Linked DNA regions of Homo sapiens. The protein of the gene in region 3 interacts with the protein of the main gene of each other region in a pairwise test. Each region holds a gene or a part of one and is shown on either strand. Other genes may lie near its edges. The genes, in order: KRTAP3-2, ZNF620, ZIC1 and SPATS1.

Evidence for each region.
Region 1: the proteins of ZIC1 (region 3) and KRTAP3-2 interact in binary tests that used the Homo sapiens proteins (3 or more experiments, as listed by UniProt).
Region 2: the proteins of ZIC1 (region 3) and ZNF620 interact in binary tests that used the Homo sapiens proteins (3 or more experiments, as listed by UniProt).
Region 4: the proteins of ZIC1 (region 3) and SPATS1 interact in binary tests that used the Homo sapiens proteins (3 or more experiments, as listed by UniProt).

The regions. Positions count from the first base shown.
Region 1 is NC_000017.11:40,998,659-41,004,826, forward strand, and holds KRTAP3-2 (keratin-associated protein 3-2), read right to left. Parts: upstream 1,249-6,168; 5' UTR 1,196-1,248; coding exon 899-1,195; 3' UTR 535-898; downstream 1-534.
Region 2 is NC_000003.12:40,516,023-40,519,269, reverse strand, and holds the end of ZNF620 (zinc finger protein 620), read right to left. Parts: coding exon 2,407-3,247; 3' UTR 534-2,406; downstream 1-533. UniProt on the Homo sapiens protein: May be involved in transcriptional regulation.
Region 3 is NC_000003.12:147,412,357-147,417,260, reverse strand, and holds the end of ZIC1 (zinc finger protein ZIC 1), read right to left. Parts: intron 4,744-4,904; coding exon 4,580-4,743; intron 3,908-4,579; coding exon 3,710-3,907; 3' UTR 542-3,709; downstream 1-541. UniProt on the Homo sapiens protein: Acts as a transcriptional activator. Involved in neurogenesis. Plays important roles in the early stage of organogenesis of the CNS, as well as during dorsal spinal cord development and maturation of the cerebellum.
Region 4 is NC_000006.12:44,373,632-44,380,680, reverse strand, and holds the end of SPATS1 (spermatogenesis-associated serine-rich protein 1), read right to left. Parts: intron 4,324-7,049; coding exon 4,208-4,323; intron 3,647-4,207; coding exon 3,618-3,646; 3' UTR 502-3,617; downstream 1-501.

The DNA.
Region 1 (6,168 bases), on a different chromosome or scaffold from region 3:
TTTCTATTATAATCCGATGTGGATTTTGTTAAAGAATCTTACATGTTTTATTTCTCTTGCATATTTTGGGTTTATTTCATAACTGTGCTCATTAAGCTTCTGGTTTCATTAGTATTGAAGGTTCTATGATGTGGTAGGAAAAATTGGGCTTTAGAGTCAGACATACAAGAGGCTGAATTCTGATTTTCTAAGTAATTAACTTTATGACTTTCAGAATGTTGAATAACGCTTAAAACTTCATTTTTTCTTATCCATTAGTGCTGTTTTAAGGACTAAATCAATAATTTACTGGTGAAGAGTAGATAAATAAATGTTGGTTCACACCAAAATTGCACTTGTCTGAGGAAGAAGAGAGAAGAGAAGGCAAACATGAAAGAGAACCTGTTAAAAGTTAGCAAGCCATGTTAGTAGTAGCAAGAATGTTAGTCATTCTGCCAATAGAGTCTTCTTTAAAAGATTAAAATAATCATCCTGTTTTTACCTTTTTAAAATGGAAGAAATATACCCAAAACTAACATAAACAAATGACACATCTTGCCAGAGAAATATAGTTTATTGGAAAACCCACCAAGAAATTTTCTTCTATGAAAATACCCAGTACAAGAAACAAGAGCCAGGAAGCAATATGATCAAGAACATGTAATCTGAGGTCTTAAAGATTGAAACAGTATTTTGCTAATAAAACTCATTCACCTGCCCACAGGAACCAAATGGTTTTTCAGCTAAATAACCATAAAAAATACTTTTCTTTTTTTCCCCCATTAAAACCAAAGGTAAGTTCTTCATATCTGGGTCATCTGGTCTACCTTAACATCTGGCAAACTACTGAGGCAAGTGAATACTGAAGGGACAGCTTCTGGATTCTTCGTTGTCGGGCACTGAGCAAAGTAGCCATCCATCAGCAGCCTCTTGGGAGGCAGGGCTCACAGCAGGGCTGAGTGAAGGTGGTGAGGTTGAGGGTCTCCAGGCCCGGAGTTGGCTGGCAGGAGTTGAGCAGGAAGCAGGTGGGCACGCAGGGCTGAGGAATGTGGCAGGGTGGGGGACAGTTGTCACAGCAGATGGGCTCCAGTAACCAAACTGTGTGTGGGCAGGTGCTGGGCAGGCAGACTCCACAGCGGCAGGATTTGTCGGAGGAGCAGATGGTGGTGGCAGGCCCAGTGGGGACACTGCAGCTGCGAGAGGCACAGCAATCCATGGCAATGGGCGTCTGGTTAGCTTTCAGTTTCTTAGATGAGGATTCTGAGGTACAAATGTCTCCTCTTTTGTTAGGGCTCTTATATACCCTCCCAAGTGGGCATTGGTCCAACTGGAAGCCTTCCTGTTTTGTTTATGGCACCCTTTTTCACTGAGATTCTCTAATCAGTTTGTCATTTACATGTCCATTAAGAGTTCCCGCTCTTATTAAGTTAATCATATTTTTGACTCATTGACTTGTCATTTTTGTCACAAGATCATCACATTTTGTCTTCACAGGTTTCTGGCATGCCAAACCTTATATGACTTTTATGGGTAATCAATCCAAGTGACAATTCAGCTGTAATTTTGGAGGCCAAACTCTTCTTGTTTTTCCCTCTTAATTTAAAATACTATGGATAATGTGATTTCTAATGACTAATTTCAGAATGAGTAACTCAAATGATGAACTGGACCATTTTCAACTCAATAAAGTCAACAAGAATATGGCTATTTACAGATGAATGTTTCATGTGACTACAGGCATCTCGGACATGTTTGCATTATTTAGTGATATTATAATTCAGGTTCTATTGAGCAAGCAAAGTGGTAGAATGGTACAGGATGAAGAAACTCCTTTTTATTATTTTTATTAAATCTGTAGTGAATTTCTCAATGTTGTATTATTCTATGGATTTTTTTTTTCTAAAATAGTCTCTATTCTCAAAGTTATGCCAATCTTGTGGTGAATCAAAGTATAAATTCATTGGAAGGAAGGATCCACACAGTGGCCATTCTTTGTTGAATATACCACTAAAAGAAAACCACCTCAGCCTTGATTCATTTTCACATGAATGGTGTACATACTTTAAAATAAGATGAAATAAGAATTAAAAGGAGAAACCACAAGAGTCACAGAACAATCATGGATTTTGGCAGGGAATCTGACTCAATGCAATTTAGAACTATGGCATTCATAAAAATCACTTTTTCACTGACTTACTCCCTACTTTGCATGTTTATTTGTTTTCATACCTTGGATCTTGAACTAGATTGAAATTCCTTTGAGGTATGCCTTAAACAACATTATTTACTTAAGTCAGCCAGAGATTGAACTAGATAATATCAAATGTGTAATATTCTAGATTCCAACATCTTCCTACACCTGTCCATGATCAGCACAAATCCTTTCAGATAATATTGTATAATTTAAATTACATACTCGTTATGTGGCAATTTGTTGACTTAACAGAAAGCAAAGATTCCGGGTAGGTTGTTTCTGAGGGGACATTACCAAAAACCAGTACGATCTACTTAAAAGAGAAGAAAGCTGGCTAAAATCAGTGGAAAATATCAAATGTCATTGGTAGGTAAGCCTTATACGTTATACGTTAAAACAACCAGTTTATCTTTTTCTTTAACAACAAAAATATGTGGTACATATATGCCATAGAATACTATGCAGCCATAAAAAATAAGGAGCTCCTATCCTTTGAAGAAACATGGATGGAGCTGGAGGCTATTATCTTTAGTAACTAATGCAGAAACAGAAAACCGAATACTGCATGTTCTCACTTATAAGTGGTAGCTAAATGATGAGAACGCATGGACACATAGAGGGGAATAACAGATGCTAGAACCTATCAGAGGGTGGAAGGTGGGAGGAGGGACAGGATCAGGAAAAATAACTGGTAGGTACTAGGCTTAATACGTGGGTGATGAGATAATCTGTACAACAAACCCCCATGACACCAGCTTACCTATGTAACAAACCTGCACAGGTACCCCTGAACTTAAAAGTTAAAAACAAAAAAACAGAAAACAGCTTCAAATCATTTTTATTAGCAGGAATTTACAACAAATGCCAAGGGTGTCGAACATCATACTGTTACCAGATGGTGCCATGCAGTTCCAGGCTTTTGGTGTCCCAAAGAATTGGACGAGACACCCACAGCAAAACAAAGAAACAAAAGTGTATTAAGCACAGTATTACACTCTAAGAGGGGGAGAGCAAACCAGCCTCTGTGAGATGAGATCAGCCCCCAGCTTGGTGCAGTTTGCGTCTTTGTGTGTGTGTGTGTGTGTGTATGTGTGTGTGTGTGTCCCTTCCCAAGGCTGCCTAATCTCTAGCCAGTGTTTGCCTCTTTGATTGACAGGTGTGTTGCTTAGTTACTTTGGCCCCTGTGTGCTTGCGCACCACCTCCAGCCCATAATTTTAAGTACATACATGATATGCAGTCCATATGCATAAGCCTGAATGAGCTGATTTTCATACAAGGTCATGTTAAGGATACGTTTTCTCTTTAATGCACATGCTTATCCATGAAGAGTTGCCCCTTACTGGTTTGGTCCTTATCTTGCCGGCCATGGGGGCCTTGCTTTCTTCTCTATCTTACTTTTTGTTTTGGCTGGAGTGCAGTGGCATTCTCTGCTCACTGCAGCCTCTACTTTCTGGGATCAAGTGATTCTCCTACCTCAGACTCCCAAGTAGCAGCTGGGATTACAGGTGCCCGCCACCACACCCAGCTAAGTTTTGTATTTTTTGTAGAGAGGGGTGTTTCTCCATGTTGGCCAGGCTGGTCTTGAACTCCTGATCTCAAGTGATCCACCTGCTTCGGCCTCCCAAAATGCCAGGATTACAGCATGAGCCACCGCGCCTGGTCTAACTTCTGCTTCTTATCTTGCTTCTTGCTTACCTGCCCCTTCACCTTGCTTCTGGTCTCTGCTTTTATTCACTCCACCCTTTATCCAAGTTTTAATTCCCTTTGCTAGTCTCCTGCCTCAATACCTGCACTTTACCACTGAAGAACAGATAAGCAAATTCAAGTGGCTTTCCCAGTATATTATAAAATTCAAAGTTAATGAACTAGTATTGAAATCGTCAAGGAAATGTTTAATGTTTACTTACTCTTGACTTACCAGTCTCTCTCATCTAGAAGCCAGTGGCTTGGCAAGTAGAATATATGAAGAAGACCCTCTCCCATTCTCTGTGTTCTCTCTGACTTCTCTTTTAAAATCGATTTTGAAATATTATATAGATTCAGGAGATCTACTGTACAACATGGTGACTATAGTGAATAACCATATATTGCATTTTTGAAAAACGCTGAGAGAATGGATTAAGTGTTCTCATCACAAAAATGATAACTATGTGAGTCACGCATATGTTAATCATACAGCACATTACATAAAGTGAAGGCGGGAGTCTCCTAGGTACTTTACCCTCTGTGACCTCGTTCATACTGTTTCTTTAGCTTAAAGTGACCTTTCCCAATTCTCTAGTTTCCAAATCCTGTTGATCCCTCAAGATTCAGCCAAACATCCCCTTCATAAAGAAACTCTAGGTGATTCTTCTAGATGTTTGCATCCTTTTCTCTGCTCTCACAAAATGGGCTGCCTATTCTTCCCTTTCAACCTCATTTCTTTCTGCTATATTTTGTAGTTTGTCACTTAAATTTGTTTTCCTCACTCCAATGCAAGGTTCTTGGAAGTGGTAATCGTATGTTAGTTTTATTTGTCTTTTTCAAGCACCTAGGACAATGCCTGAAACAGGGTAGGCATTTGATAAATATTTGTTGAATTGGATTACATTTCAGATTAGAATTAAAAAGGTATTTATTTATTTTTATAATGGCCTTTTATAACAGTAACACTTTATATAAAGAGAGTGATTCATTTTTTGTGTGAATTGCTTTACAGTTGTCAAAACTTTTTTTTTTTTTTGAGATGGAGTTTTGCTCTTGTTGCCCAGGCTGGAGTGCAATGGCACGATCTTGGCTCACAGTAACCTCTGCCTCCCGGGTTCAAGCCATTCTCCTGCCTCAGCCTGAGGAATAGATGGGATTACATTCATGCTCTACCATGCCCGGCTAATTTTGTATTTTTAGTAGAGACGGGCTTTCACCATGTTGGTCAGGCTGGTCTTGAACTCCGGACCTCAGGTGATCCGCCCGCCTCAGCCTCCCAAAGTGCTGGGATTAGAGAGGCGTGAGCCACCATGCCTGGCCAACATTTTTAAATTCAAAGATTTACCTAAATGAGACAGCGAAAAAAATGGGCTTGGCTCAATCTTTGAGGTCCTTTCTGTGAGCATGTTGATCTCAAATTGCTAGCTTCACTGCCTCTTTAAGGACACGTGAGTTTATTTAGAGGCAGGGAAAAAATAAAAATCAAAGGTAGATGCTGACCTTGGCATTTAAAACGATTCTAAGCTTAGAGCCTAATGCATTTCACTATCCTCACAGTTTTCTTCAGGTATCTACGTATGCCTGTGAGGCCTCTTTTTGGCTATGAAATTTATGTTGATGTCATCAGAAAGTGTAATTCTGCTGGATGTATTTTTAAGTTCATGATGCATGTGTCAAGAGTCGTTGGGTAATTATAGCATTAAATGTTGAGGCAGTATGTGGTTTGGGGAGTAGTGGTGTTTATTTAGTTTTGAAGTAAGGGGATCCATGGTAGCATTTTTTTTCCCATTTCTCATTTGAAATCATTGTTCAAAACAGGAAAAGAAAACTTCTGTAAAACTGAAGGCACAGTGCTATATTTTCTTCCAAATGGCCTCATTAAAGGCCATTTGCTGAGCAGCGCTTAATGACTACTGAAGGTCCTCAGGGTAATGTGGGCAAGCTCTTTGGCTAGCAGCAAGGTGGTTCACACTCTGGATGCAGGTGGTGACAGAGAGCCCGCTCAGGGTTGGAGCTGGGTGGCATTTGTTGAGCAGTCAACAGGATGGCACATAGGAGTCAGGCATGCAGCCAGGCAGGGGCCAGGTTCACAGCAGGTGGGCTGAAGGAGGCTGATCTCATGAGGACAGGTGCTGGGTAGGCAGACTTCACATTGACAGCTTATGTCAGAGGGGCAGATAGTGGTGGCCAGGCCAGTGGGGACGCTGCAGCATCCTTGGAGATAGGAATCACAGCAAGACATAGTGACAGTGGACCAGGACAATGTTTTGTGGCAAAGGAAGGCTTTCTTCTACAAGGTTGTCCTCTA
Region 2 (3,247 bases), about 110 Mb from region 3:
ACCTCTAAAAAATAAAAACATAATAAAAATTTAAAACGTTTAATCTATACCAATCTACCTAATGACCTAGCCATTCCACTCCTGTATCAAGATAAATGAAAGCATATATTCTTACAAAGATGTGGACACAAATGTCCATAGCAGCTTTATTTGTAATAGCCAAAAACTGAAAACAACCCAAATGGCCATCAACAGGTCAATGAATAAACAAATTATGGCATATCCATACAGTGGAATACTACTCAGCAATAAAAAGGAATGAACTATTGATATATATGCAACAACATGGGTGAATCTCAAAGTAATTATGCTGAGTGAAAGACACCAGACCAAAAAATAAAGGAAAATTAATCCAAGTGACAGAAAGCAAACCAGTGGTTGCCTGTGAAGGGCCAAGAGGAAGGGATTATGGAGGGGTACAAGCAAAGTTTTGGGGTGGTGGCTGATTATTATCTTGAACTGTGATAATTGTTTCACTAGTATATTGATAAGTCAAAACTTACCAATAGGATTATAATAATAGGTAAAAATTTTTTTTTTTTTTTTTTTGAGACGGAGTCTCAATCTGTCACCCAGACTGGAGTGCAGTGGCATGATCTTGGCTCACTGCAACCTCTGCCTCCCTGGGCTCCTGCCTCAGCCTCCCAAGTAGCTGGGACTACAGGCACATGTCACCCCACGCCCAGCTAATTTTTTGTACTTTTAGTAGAGACAGGGTTTCAGTGTGTTAGCAGGATGGTCTTGATCTCCTGACCTTGTGATCTGCCCACCTCAGCCTCCCAAAGTGCTGGGATTACAGGCATGAGCCACTGTGCCCGGCCAATAATAGGTAATACTTTTATTATATGTAGTCACTGTTTGAAACACTTCTACAAATAATGCATTTAATCCCCAACACAAACCTATGAGGTAGATTAACTGTCATCCTCATTTTACAGATAAGGAAACTAGTGCAGTTTTTGTAACTTAACCAAGGACAAACACCTGGACTCAAACCAAAGTCTGCCTGGCTCTGTATTATTAATCACTACTCTCTGCTTCCTGCAAAATCAAGCTGGCTGCCAGAGGGGATGCTAAAACCTAACACATTTACATCTTCCCTCATTTCCACAGGTAACAGCAATAATGGTAGGTTCTTCCATGATCATAAAAAATAACTAGATGGAATTGCAAGAAAATGCTGCCTGCTTTGAGGTCACTTGAAACAGCAATGAGAATAAATTTAAGACAAATGGTGCCTTGCACCTGACTCAAAGAGTATATACATCCTGACTTTTGCAAAGGCACAGAGTACAACTGTCTAGTGAAGACAAACTGAAGAATAAGTAGGGTGGGTGGACACTGAACCTGAGATAGGTCTCTGGAAGTTTGCACCCTACTAGGAATGTCTTCCAAGATGCATTTGGCTCCACATGGACAGGGCCCGTTTTTGAATTTAGGAGACTTCTGACGTACGGACTGCAATAGGGAATCCATATATCTGTCTTTTTATTTACTGGTTTACTCCTTGTGTAGTGTTGCACATATGAGAAAGGATGCATGGGAGATAAAGATTTCAGATTTAAAGGGTCTGAAATGCCTTTATTCTATACTTATACTTTGGAGTATAGAATTGCAGGGGAAAACATTTTCCATGAGAAGTCTGAAGGCATACACATTGTCATCTGACTTTGAAGGTTGCTCTTGAAAAATCTAATGCCATTTTCATTTTTTACTGTTTTTGAGACAAAGTCTCACTCTGTCGCCCAGGCTGGAGTGCAGTGGTGCGATCTCAGCTCACTGCAACCTCTGCCTCAGGGATTCAAGTGATTCTCCTGCCTCAGCCTCTCTAGTAGCTGGGATTACAGGCATGCGCCACCATGCCTGGCTAATTTTTGTGTTTTTTTTTTTCAGGAGAGACGGGGTTTCACCATATTGGGCGGGCTGGTCTCGAACTCCTGACCTCATGATCCACCCGCCTCAGCCTCCCAAAGTGCTGGGATTACAGGCACGAGCCACCGCGCCTGGCCCCGCTTTCATTTCTGATCTTTTGTTTTCTCTCTCTAGAAACTTTTTAGGGTCTCATTTTTTCTCCATGATCCTCTTATTCAAACTTGGTGTTTTCATAATTCACAGCAATTTTCCTTAATGTAGGTTTCCCTTGAATCCATCCTGCTGGGCACCCAGCATGTCCTTTAAATCTGGAAACTTACATTTCCTTTTATGTTTCTAAGTTTGTTTGTTTGTTTTTTGGTCTTCTCTAACCATAAAGAGACTTCATGTTGGGGAAACAGGTTCAAAAAACTTAAAGAAGAGTTCATGATGAAAGCCAAGTGTCTAACCAGGAAGGACAGCGAGGACACTGATAAAAAGCATGAAAATAAAGAGAAAAAAGGAGAGGCACAGTGGGCCTAACTATGGATAGCCCTATGCTTGGACAGGTGTCTTCTGAGTGTGTAGTTTCTGATGCAGAATGAATCTTCCACACCAGCTGAAGGTTTTACCACACACTTTACACTCATAAGGTTTCTCGCCAGTGTGAACTCGCTGGTGCTGAATCAGGGTTATTTTCTGATTGAATGCCTTCCCACACTCCTTACATTCAAAGGGCTTCTCCCCAGTGTGAATTCGCTGATGCTGAGTCAAGGCTGTGTTGGAGCTTAATCGTTTTCCACACTCTTTACATTCATAAGGTTTCTCCCCAGTGTGCATTCGCTGATGGACAGTGAAACTTGAGCTGCAACTGAAAGTTTTCCAACATTCGTTACATTCATAGAGCTTCTCCCCAGTGTGGAACCTCTGGTGCTGGAGGAAGACAGAGCTGCTACTGAAGGCCTTGCCGCACTCCTTACATTCATAGGGCTTTTCTCCAGTGTGGATTCTCTGATGCTGAATCAAGGCTGTGTCTGAACTTAAACCTTTTCCACATTCTTTACATTTAAATGGTTTCTTTCCAGTGTGAATTATCTGATGCCGAATAAGTAATGAGTTATATCTGAAGTATTTTCCACATTCTTTGCATTCAAAAGACTTTTCACCAGTGTGACATTTCTCATGTCGGTGGAAGTCTGCCATTTGAATGAAATATCTGCCACATTGTCCACATTCATAAGATATCTGACCACTAGGATTTGTCTGATTTGTAGTGAGTTGTGTGCTGACGCTAATATTTTTTCCTAATTTCTCAAACTTCTCTCCATTCTTGACCTCATAGGCCTCATGGTGCCTGGCTGAGGTATCTGTGAAATGTCTCCTCTTTGACTTTGTC
Region 3 (4,904 bases):
AAGAAAACAAAGGATCTGAAATGTTTGAAATTACTTAGCCCCCATATAAATGGTGCTTGTATATTTATATGCTTGCTCTACAAATGCACACACACACATACCACAACTCATTTCTCTTCATTTCTCAAATATGATTGCTTGTACTCAGGCATTTTCTGTTGACACAACATAACTTTTTAATAACTTGTTAGCTGTTCTAATCATTTGATAGTATTCAGAATACAATGCAATTGCAAAATGAACCAGGACAGCATTCTACCTAAGTCAGAATCTAAAGCTACACACAGGAAACAGCTATTTGCAGCATCTTCAGCTCCTGCTAAAGAGAGTCTAACAATATATTTTGCTGTTCACATTTATGTATTTCAAAACCTAATAGCCCATGAAAAAAAGTATGAAGAATACATCTCAAGAAGCAGATATTAAAGGTACCAGCAAAATAATAGACTACATTTAACTTCGAAGGATTATTTTAGGCCACCTACATCATTAATGACTTTTTCTTTGTGATAGGTGTTGGAAAAGAGAATGCACAGGAGGGTTGGCTTAAATGTTGGCTTTTATTACGTTTACTTGCTGTGAGTAAGATTATTCACAAATGCAAACACACTACTCTTCAAATGTTTTCTTAAAAATTATTTGGCCTTCACAGTCTAAACAGATATTTGAAATATGGAGTCATTTTGAAGTAAACATTTACCCCTAAAATTTATCTTTAAAATATCCTACTTAAATCATATGTCATAGTGTGATATTTAATTGTTACACTGTGGTATTAAAGCAAAAGGGGCATCAGGTACACAACAAAAATTAGACAGTTATAATTCCCAATTTGAGGTAAACTACATCTAGGAATAGGAATGTTCGAAGAAAAGATGAACTCATCATTTACTATCTTCTTAAATGCACCAGCAAAATTACAAAAGTACCACTATTATCATGTTTATCATTATCACACTCATATCAGGTTATCAGACAAGCTGATCTCAATGAAAGTGGGAAGGATTATTAATTGTGGTGTTATCTTTTCTAGAGAGAAGAGATGTCTTTATTCCTCTTTCTATTTTTAACTAATGTCTGGACCTAATGTCTGGAGTCACTTCAAATGCAAATCTGTTAATCAGTTTCAAACTTCCAAACCAATTGGGGCTAGCTTTTGCTTCGCAAATTTTTGGAGCTAGCAGCAATTCCTGCTTAGGTATTCAACTTCCATAAATCTCACTAAACCTTGCAAGGTGGCGCTCTTTTCATGAAAAAAGCCAATATTATTGTTATAATCAGAATAACATTTTTTAAAAAGTTAAACACCACCCTCCCCAGTGTTTGATGTGGTACAGTAAGTGCAGCAAAGTCCTTCCTCAGCAAATAAGACTTTGTTGAAACAGTGACAAATATAAATAGCAAGAGATGAAAAGACAAGTCAACAAAGGATTCTTAAAGAAATTGAACATTTTTATCTTGTAATTGGCCAATGGTATAAACTGAAAAATTAATTTCACTTTAAAATAGATGTATCTTAAGGGGTTGTTATACTTTGTGGGGTTTTTCCTCTTGTTTTCTTTCTCAGAGTCAAATATGGCCTGTGGCTTCCTGAACACATAGAGTGCATTAAAGAATCAGGTCCATGGCCACCCTTGCCCAGTGAGGTCAGTTTCTGCCACCTGCTCTGCACCTCCACACACTAGCAACTACAGCCAAGGGCCTGATTTGTGATCTCCGGCTACGTTGTCTGCCTAATGGGGCGATCATGCAAGCTACAACCAGAGACAAAGAAGCCTGCGTTCCTACCAGCGCAGCTAACTTCATGGAAGCAGCATAGCTTGCAAATCTATCAAACTAAACTGCAAGAAAGACAATCTGATTTAGAGAAAAGGCATTCTGCTACAGTCATTAAGCACAAGTAATTTAGATTTTTTATATTGTCTCCTCATTTACAAATTTACTGTATCAATGCCAACCAATGGAACGAATTTCTTAAGTAAATGAGAAATAAATAAAAGAGATAGAAAGATAATCAAATTACTTAAAATAATCCTCTTCCCTAGATGTATTTTTGAGAGAACTAATAACAGTGGCAAAATCATAGGAATAATAACATATCATAGGAAGTAATTAATTTAAATTAGCATCATGTTTGAAGAATATAAGTGAAACGCTTTATGGACATTTACTTTTGTACAAAGAAGGAAGGCCTGGAAAAGCATGCATCGACATCCTGAAAATTAGTTATGGTCATAAATGGTTTAATTGAAGACAGCAATTTAAAATATGATATTGTAAATCTGCAACTCAGTTTCAGCCCGGGGAATTTAATCTAGGGGGCAGCGGAACCCTCGGCTGCAAGTTCATTTGCAATGTTGCAGAGCGAGCCCCTGAGCTTCTGACAATTCGTCTACATTAATATTGATGTCGCCTGTGCAATCTATTCCTGTTATTTTTATGGTTGTTATTCTACATCTGCAAAGGTCATTTAAATTATACTGCGGCCGAAAATTTGTTTCATAAATTTTGATATAAATACTAATTACACTCTCTCGGAGAGCCAGCAGGGTAGCATTCATTTATCACGTTTATACGACCTGCAGTGACAGAAAGGGAAGGCAAGGGAGACTGGAGAGCTTTTCTGGAGACCCTTTAAGACTGGCAGAAGAGGCAGCAGGTTGCTGGTGGGTGAAGAAGAAATTCCTACCACAATCACGGAGATTTAAGAATCTTTAATAAGGTACGAAAGGTTACCAAACAGTTCTGGAAACTAAAGTGTACATACGAGTTCTTCTAGCCATAAATATTGAAGAGCTGTAACATGGATAAACCGGCCCTTTACATGCGGATAAATATGGAAACTAGGAATTATATACATTATGTGGTTGTATCTTTTGCCAAAAGTAACGGACAGTTATAGTTTATATCTTTTTTAATATCACTTTACATAAACAAATGGAACAGTTTGACACGCAGATCCAGGCTCGTACTATACGAATTCTTGACAGGACATGAAACAACATTTTACTGCACTAAAGTACTTAGACTTTGGGACGAAATGTTTGCACTTTATACAAAAAAAGCACATTAATACCAATAATATTGGGTTAGGTCGACGTGGAGACTGTAATCGTACAAAGTAATTCACATTTTGGTACACATTTACTAGAACATTCTTGCCATTCAGTACAAACAGTTGGCTTTCGGCCGCCCACCCCTCCCCCTCCCCCTCCCCCCGCCCATCCGGTCCCTCCCCCCTCCCCCAATGCAAAGACCACAACGCCACAATCCCACCCACCCGCTCCAACCGAGATATAACTATTTACAGAATTCAACAGTACAGTTTTAAGCTAATAATTCTGTATTTACAAGAAAACAAAGAAAAAAAGAAGCCGAAGCCCCAGAGAGCCCGTACCAATTCGACAAGAAACTGGCCCTCGGGGTTGGCGGCATTTGGTCAGGTGGCCTCCTCCCCCTCGACCCCCTACCGCACCTTGGGTACCAAGCCTTTGCCAAAAAAAGAAAAATAATGAAAGCGAAAGGAAATTTTTAAAAGGTTGATGCTTCCTCTCTTACTCGTCCTGGGTCTATTGGCAGATTTTTTAAAAAAGGATTGCGGGGTCTGTGTGGGGGTTGTTTTGATTCGCAGGGTTCTTTCAGTAATGTTGTGTATACGTGTGTGATCAGTCTCTTAAATAGGGTTTTGTTCGATGTTTTGTTTCTGATTTTAAACGTACCATTCGTTAAAATTGGAAGAGAGCGCACTGTGGCCGGCTGTGTGGTGGACTGCGGAGGAGGAGGGCGATAAGGAGCTTGTGGTCGGGTTGTCTGTGGAGGGAGACACGATGGTGGGAGGCGTGGAGGATTCGTAGCCAGAGCTGGCGGCCGGCGAAGGCTGCGAGCCCTGCGAGGAGGATTCGTGGACCTGCAGGAATAAAGTCGCGTTTTTACGGACATAAAGAGCCAGTGCGGCGGCCGACTAGAGAGGCGAAGGCCGCGAGTGCCCTTCCTCCTGGACCCCTTGGAGCCCCCTGAACACAGGTGAGGCCCGATCAGCGGGACTTTGGGCTTGGTTTCTCTGCACAGGCCTGCAGAAACCGTGCTCCTGGGAAAGTCAGGGTCCCCAAGACTCACAAAAGAAAAATAGGTCTGGGAAGAGGGAGACTGGATATGAGGCCAGAGACTGCACTTTCTTTCCCTGAACTTTGCTTGTCCATGTTTAGGTGAGCCAGAGCTCAGGCCTGGGCGCAGGAGTCCAATTCTTGCGTCTCACTGGCAGCTGCAAGGGCAGCAGTTTCCGCAGCGTCAACCCCCTGCAAAAGCCCTAGCTCTGGGCCAAATTCAGTGGCGGCCTTTGCTCATACTCGCCTCTTTTAACTTTTATTATTAAACCAAAAATTTAAAACGGCCTTGGACACTCCCATCCCCTTTTCCAGGTCCCGCCCTACCTTCTCTGCCCAGTTCCACTGAGTGGAACCTTTGCCTTCCCGCTTCCTCTGGCTCCCGCCACCGCCTGTCTGCCACTCGCCGCCCGACCCCAAGCCGAGAGCCAAGAGAGCTCCTGCCTCAAAGGGGGCGACGAGAGTGCGGCGATTACCTTCATGTGTTTGCGCAGCGAACTGGGATGCGTGTAGGACTTGTCGCACATCTTGCAAAGATAGGGCTTGTCGCTCGTGTGCACGTGCATGTGCTTCTTGCGGTCGCTGCTGTTAGCGAAGCGCCGGTCACAGCCCTCAAACTCGCACTTGAAGGGCTTCTCCCCTGGTGCCAAAGTAGAATGAGAGGGGTCTAATTAGAAAAAAATACCGCGGCCGTTTTTCAAAAACTAAACAAATAGAAAAAAAATAAAACAAAAAGCCAGCAGCCCAGGATTAGCACTTTGCAAGCTTAAAAACCCGGAACGTCAATAAATTCTTACATCT
Region 4 (7,049 bases), on a different chromosome or scaffold from region 3:
GATTTCCCAGCCAGGAAAGAAAAGCCTCTTTAGGACAGAGACATGATCTTGAAGGACTCCAACTCTAAAATACTTCACCAAGTCAAGTCCTGTAAACAATGTGTTTACCTGCCTAGATTTTGAGACCAAAATGCCTAAGAACAAAACAAAACTAACCAAACTGAGTGCCTCGTATTAGAAATGTGGACAATTAGTGGAATCCTACAGTATATTCCTAAATTCCTTGTGGAATTTTAGAAGTTTAATATCCTACTATCTTAACATTTTGGTAACTTGGAGTTCAGAGATCACTAATTCGAACGTTGGTGCCACTAGCTGAATAATACAATGTTTCTTCATGTCCACAGAGGTCATTTTTCATTTATCCCAGGATCCAAAATTAGAATACCTCTGTGCAATATAAAATTGCACACTAAGAAATTTACTTGTAAAGTTTCACATATAGTTTATTTCTATTGAACTTCAGTTATTGAAAGTAAGAATTGAACACACACACACCTCTGCACCCACATGTTTTTATTTACCAAAGACCCTACAGTGAGGTGAAGGGGATCTTTACATCTAACAGGTTCAACCTCTTTCTAGCTGGAAAGAAGCAAAAGCTGGAACAGCTATGATATGCACATATTTTTCCCATGTGGCCTTTCTCTATGCCTTTGTCTCCCCACACACGTAGACATACTCATGCTGTCCAAAGTTGGCAGTGGAACTCTACCTGACAGCTATTGAGGTGCCGTGGAATAAGGCCTGGGCATCGAGATGTACCCACAGAGAACACCAGATCCAGCGAAAACTGCCCTGATTTTCAGGGGATGAAATGTAGCTCTGCAACTCCAGAAGTTCAATCATCTAACAGTTGTGTAGGGTTTTTTTGTTTTTTTGTGTTTTTTTTTTTTACTCATGGTTTTTGCGGCCTGGATTAAAAGAAAAAGGAATCAAATCATATCTACTTAGAGCAGCACCTAGGAATTATATAGACCTCTTTGAAACCTAGAGACTACTCCAAACCTTCTAAAACTGTATTTTGGTTGTTTTTCTTTCTTTCTTTCTTTCTTTTTTTTTTTTTTTTTTTTTTTTTTTTGAGACAGAGTCTCACTCTGTTGCCCAGGCTGGAGTGCAGTGGCACAATCTTGGGTCACTGCAAGCTCCGCCTCCCAGGTTGACACCATTCTCCTGCCTCAGCCTCCCGAGTATAGTACAGTCCTGGGACTATAGGTGCCCACCACCATGCCTGGCTAATTTTTTTGTGTTTTTAATAGAGACAGGGTTTCTCCATGTTAGCCAGGATGGTCTCGATCTCCTGACCTCGTGATCCGCCTGCCTCGGCCTCCCAAAGTGCTGGGATTACAGGCGTGAGCCACCACGCCCAGCCGGTTGTTTTCCTTAATATATTTATGGTGTAGGACTCCCTCCTTCCAAAACACCAGGGAACCTTCTGAGAGCAGTTTCCTGTGCCACCTAGATAATCTCACCAGGAAATCTCTGCAGAATCTTTTTTTGTTCTATATTGTGTCCTCCATTACTAACCCACCTGGTGGTTGCAGTTGACTTTTTTTTTTAGGGGTGGGGCATTGTTTTTGACTAGGGGAAAGAAGACTTTTTTACATTTAAGTAATAGAGGCACAAAAAATTATTATCTTTTCAGAAGTTAATGTGTCCTGGAAAATCTCTTGGCAGCCTCTGTCTTTTTAAAAATTATTTGGTGTTTTTTTAAATTATTATGTTGGGAGCAGGGGTGGGCCTGTGACCCAGGGGCCAGAGGATTAGCACGGATGTATGCTGATGTTAACCCAAGGAGTGGTCAGGCACAGCAGCTGGCAGTCGGCACCATGCTCTCTGCCAGTTAGTCTAGAGGCACATATGAAGGTGCCATGAATGCATTGTGGTTTTTGTTTGCTTCTTTGTTTTTGGGATGGAGTTTCGCTCTTGTCGCCCAGGCTGGAGTGCAATGGCATGGTCTTGGCTCACTGCAACCTCTGCCTCCTGGGTTCAAGAGATTCTCCTGCCTCAGCCTCCCGAGTACCAGGGATTACAGGTGCCCACCATCTTGCCTGGCTAATTTTTGTGATTTTAGTAGAGACAGGTTTCGCCATGTTGACCAGGCTGGTCTCGAACTCCTGACCTCAAGTGATTCGCCTGCCTCGGCCTCCAAAAGTGCTGGGATTACAGGCATGAGCCACCACACCTGGCTAAATGTATCGTGTTCTAAACCTGCTTCATTCACTTTGGCTGTGACTGGAGACAACAAACATTTTGGGAAATAAATCATGCTCATGTCATAGACATGTGGAGTCTCAGCATGGACCCCAATCTCTTTCCACTTTAAGGTTTTGGAGATACTAGATCTGCAGCCTTCATTAGCCAGCCAAGGGGGTTCCCTAGTGGAGAAAGAGATTGGCTGTAAAAATGCCGTGAGTCACTAGTTTGACTGTGTCAAAGCCTGTGAGGCAGCTTTTGTTTTCACCTTTTCCTCCAAATGTTTGCTTCTTGTCTGATTGACAGGAGGCCCTAAAACTCATGACTGGTGGTCACTGAGCTCTCACCCTGCTTGGCTATTGTAGATAGGCAATACTAAACTGGGGAATGCAGCTACAGGGCAATAGTATTACTTACCTGGTATAGATCCAGCCTTCATGTTTTTCTGACATGTACCAAGTTAACATTAGAGAAACATTCCAAAAGGTATTAATAAAATGAAAAGTTTTACCAAAAGCAATGAAAGTTCACTGCTATGGTCTAAATGTTTGTCCTCCCCACCCCAAAATGCATATGTCGAAACCTAATCCCCAAGGTGATGGTATTAGGAGGTAAGGCCATTGGGAGGCGATTAGGTCATGAGACCAGAGCCCTCATGAATGAGATTAGTGCCCTTGTAAAAGAGACCCCAGAGGACTAGCTCACCCTTTCTATCATATGAGGACACAGCAAGAAGGTACTATCTATGAGCCAGAAGGCTGGCCCTCAGCAGACACTGAACCTGCCAGCACCCTGCGCTTGGACTTCCCAGCCTCCAGAACTGTAAGAAATGAATTCCTATTGTTTATAAGCCATTCTGTTTATGGCGTTTTGTTATAGCAGCCTGAACAGGCTAAGACACTCACATCATGTCTGTATTTTATGATTGATTTGAGGGCATCCTTAGAAAACTAAATATAATTGACTAAAATTGAATGTGGACTAAATGTTAATAATATTTTATCAGTGTTAAATTCTGTGAGTTTGGTATTTGTGTTGTGGTTGTTAGACAACATCCTTGACCTTAGAAGATACATGCTGAGGTATGTAGGTATACAGGTGTAAAGGGTTACAATATCTGCCACTCACTCTCAAAGAGTTCAGCAAAATGGTAACTGTAATATTGTGAGAGAGAGAAAGTTTGAACAAATATTAACAATGATAGAATCTATGTGAAGGATATGCAGGTGTTTGTTGTACAATTCTTGCAACTTTTATGTAAATGTGAAAGTTTTCAAAATATAAAGTTTTAAAAAAGCAAAGCACAACACTTCCTCATAAGGGTCAAACACTGGATTTAGAACAGTCACATGACAAAAAACATCAACTGGAAAAGGGTCGCCAGAGTGCAGTCAGCACATGTTTTGTGGGCCTGTTTATGCTCAGGATTGTCTTGGAAAGTCCAAAGCACCTGTGGATAGAGGCATGGAGTTACAGGTTTTCTTCCATTACAAAACTAACAATTCTCAATCAATACACTCGACCCCCAATGCTTGGCTATGACATCTGCCCATGAGACCACCTCGGGACAGAAGACACATCCACTCCAGGAGATACTTTGCCTGCCCTCCTTTCCACTGTGAAGCCTCTCAAAATCCTGTTCTCTGGACTCCTCCAGTTTTGTTTTGTTTGTTTGTTTGTGTTTGAGGCAAAGTTTCGCTCTGTTGCCCAGGCTGGAGTGCAAGTGGCACAATCTCAGCTCACTGCAACCTCCACCTCCCAGGTTCAAGTGATTCTCCTGCCTCAGCCTCCTGAGTAGCTGGGATTACAGGCACGCGCCACCACACCCAGCTAATTTTTGTATTTTTAGTAGAGACGGGGTTTCACCATGTTGGTCAGGCTTGTCTTGAACTCCTGACCTTGTGATCTGCCCGCCTCGGCCTCCCAAAGTGCTGGGATTACAGGAGTGAGCCACCATACCCGGCGGACTCCTCCAGTTTTTACACTATTCTTTGAAGTTTCTTTAACCCACCAGAAAGGTGTAGCATGTGCATTAAGGGCACTGCTGGCTGCCAGTTGTCAAGCTCCTCAACCTCTTGTATCTCATTTTTCAAACTGTTGGCCTTCTCCTTCACCCAGAAAGGCAAGCTGTGGGAAGAAGACAACACCCTGAGTTGTAGTTTGATGCAAAATTTACAAACACCAACAGCGGATAAGAAATTATGTGCTCCAAAAGTAAAAAGACCTCCAATTTAGGAGACCAGCTTCAAAATAAAATATGTTAGTTGTTCACCGTTTGCTCCTGCCTCAAACCCTCTTGTTCAGCCCTTCTCTGCCAAGAGGCTGACCTTGCAGCTAGTATCACCTGGGCTCCTCTGTGCTTCCACATTTTTTTTTTTTGAAACAAAGTCTCACTCCATCGCCCAGGCTGGAATGCAGTGGCACAATCTCAGCTCACTGCAACCTCCGCCTCGCAGATTCAAGCAATTCTCCTGCCTCAGCCTCCCGAGTAGCTGGGACTATAGGCACATGCCACCACATCTGGCTAATTTTTGTATTTTTAGTAGAGACAGGGTTTCACCTTGTTGGTCAAGCTGGTATCGAATTTCCGACCTAAGGTGATCCACCTGCCTCGGCCTCCCAAAGTGCTGGGATTACAGTTGTGAGCCACTATACCCAGCCCATATTTTTTTGTTTGTTTTTTGAGACAGAGTCTCACTCTGTCGCCCAGGCTGGAGTGCGATCTCTGCTCACTGCAACCTCCGCCTCCCGGGTTCAGGTGACTCTCCTGCTTCAGCCTCCCAAGTAGCTGGGACTACAGGCACATGACACCACGCCCAGCTAATTTTTGTATTTTTAGTAGAGATGGGGCTTTACCATGTTGGTCAGGCTGGTCTTGAACTCCTGACTCCAAATGATCCTCCCACCTTGGCCTCCCAAAGTGCTGAGATTACAGGCATGAGCCACCATCCCCACCCGTGCTTCCACCTTTGAGCTGGGCTTGGCTGATGGCACCGATAGGAGATCAGAAGGTGGACAGAAATTAGGGCATTTCTTACCTAGTTCCTCCCCTGATGTCCTATCTCCCAAGGCACCCCAATTCTGGCAGTGCCACAGCTCCTGTTGGGCAGCCCTTCTCCCGGAGCTCCAGCGCTTACTGTTCTGCAAACTGTGATCCCTCTTCTTGCTGCTCAGACCCAAGAGTAGTAACGCTTCCCACTGTCATGAGCCTCTGGGTGCTTCACCCTCCCATGTGGGTTCCCCCAACCCTGCCCACACACCCATAAATAGTCCCTTTCCTTAAGCTGTCTTCAGAATCCCAGCTGAGTGTGCTTTCTGTTTTCTGCTGGGACCTTGGCTAATGCAGATACCCAGAGTCTTCCCAGAGCCACTGAGACCTGAAAGGACATTTCTGGGCTGCATGTGGTCCAATAGGTAGTAGGAAGTGTGACTCTGGGATGAGTTGGAGCAGGCAGATGCAAAATGTTTTCATCTTTTGGAAGCTAGAATTCTTGTGCTTTAGGGGAGAAATATACCACAATTGGCAAAATGCCCTGATAAAACTGCTGGGGGTAGGGAAGTCCCTGCAAGAACGAAGAGGACGGTTACCACATAGGTAATTGGTGAAAGTCAAAGTTATCACTTAAAGCCAACAAGCCAAATAGTAGAAACCCAAATAAGAAAAGCAGGACTAAGAGCAATGTATAAAGATACTAGCGTAAAGAACTACTAGAACAAAAACACGAGCATTTCTAAATATCAAAAGAAAGCATTTTTCAGCCTTTGTTGAAACAATCAAACACTGAAAGACTCACACTAAATGTAATACAGTACACCTAATAAATGTAACAAATAATGTAACAGAACTGAAATCAAATATATCAGTCTAATCAATAAATGCAAGTGGCCTAATTCACCTGAATTAAAGAAAATATTTTCAAGCTGGCTCACGAGCAGAATCCAATTCTACCCTAAAAGCAAAGTGCTTCAAAAGCAAAAGAATGGGCAAAAAGAATGGGCAAAGGTCAGATGCAAATAAAATAGAGAATTAGAACCTTAATAACTGGCTAGGTATACTTTAGGACAAAAAGTATTAAATGAGAAAAATAAAGATACTTTCATAATGCTAAAAGACACAATTAACAACAAAAATAGTCGAAATGCTAATATTCAGACACCTTAACTCTCACACTAACTCTCAGTCCAAACTAGGCCAAGTGAACAAAAGTAAGGAAATATAGGGGCTAAACAATATAACCAATAAAGTCAATCTTCTGTATATGTATCTAACTTTCCATCCTGATTAAGTGGAATACACTTTCTTTTCAAGCACATGTGGAAATCTAAAAATAAATATTAAGTGACCTAATATAGATGCATCCCATAATACTTTGTCCTTGGAAGATACATTAACTGCAATGCCTCATCTAGGACCCAGATCAAGTACCACCTCCTCTGCAACATGTCCTCAACTTCCCCCATGTCTTTCCTCTATGTACACATTGTACCATATTTGCTTTCAATTGTTTTATGATTACTCATCTAGTGGTCTCTCCCCACAATAGACAATGAGCCTTGAAACAAATATCATATCTTATTCATCTTTGTGATCCCTGCCTCCATTACCTCACCACCTTCCCATTTCTCCTGTAGATTAAGTGCATAAACGGTACTCAAAGGATGTCTGCTGAGTTGAATAAATAATCCCTGTAAACGTACTGCACATTATAGGGACCTTTTCAATAAGTAATCTTACCTCCCTAATTTTTATTCTAATTCTGGCTCTCTCTGTCACTAACTAGAGAAGACTTGGCAACTTTATCTGGTTCTGGTTATCAGGTTTTGTTCTTATTTTACAGGTGGATTGTTGCATT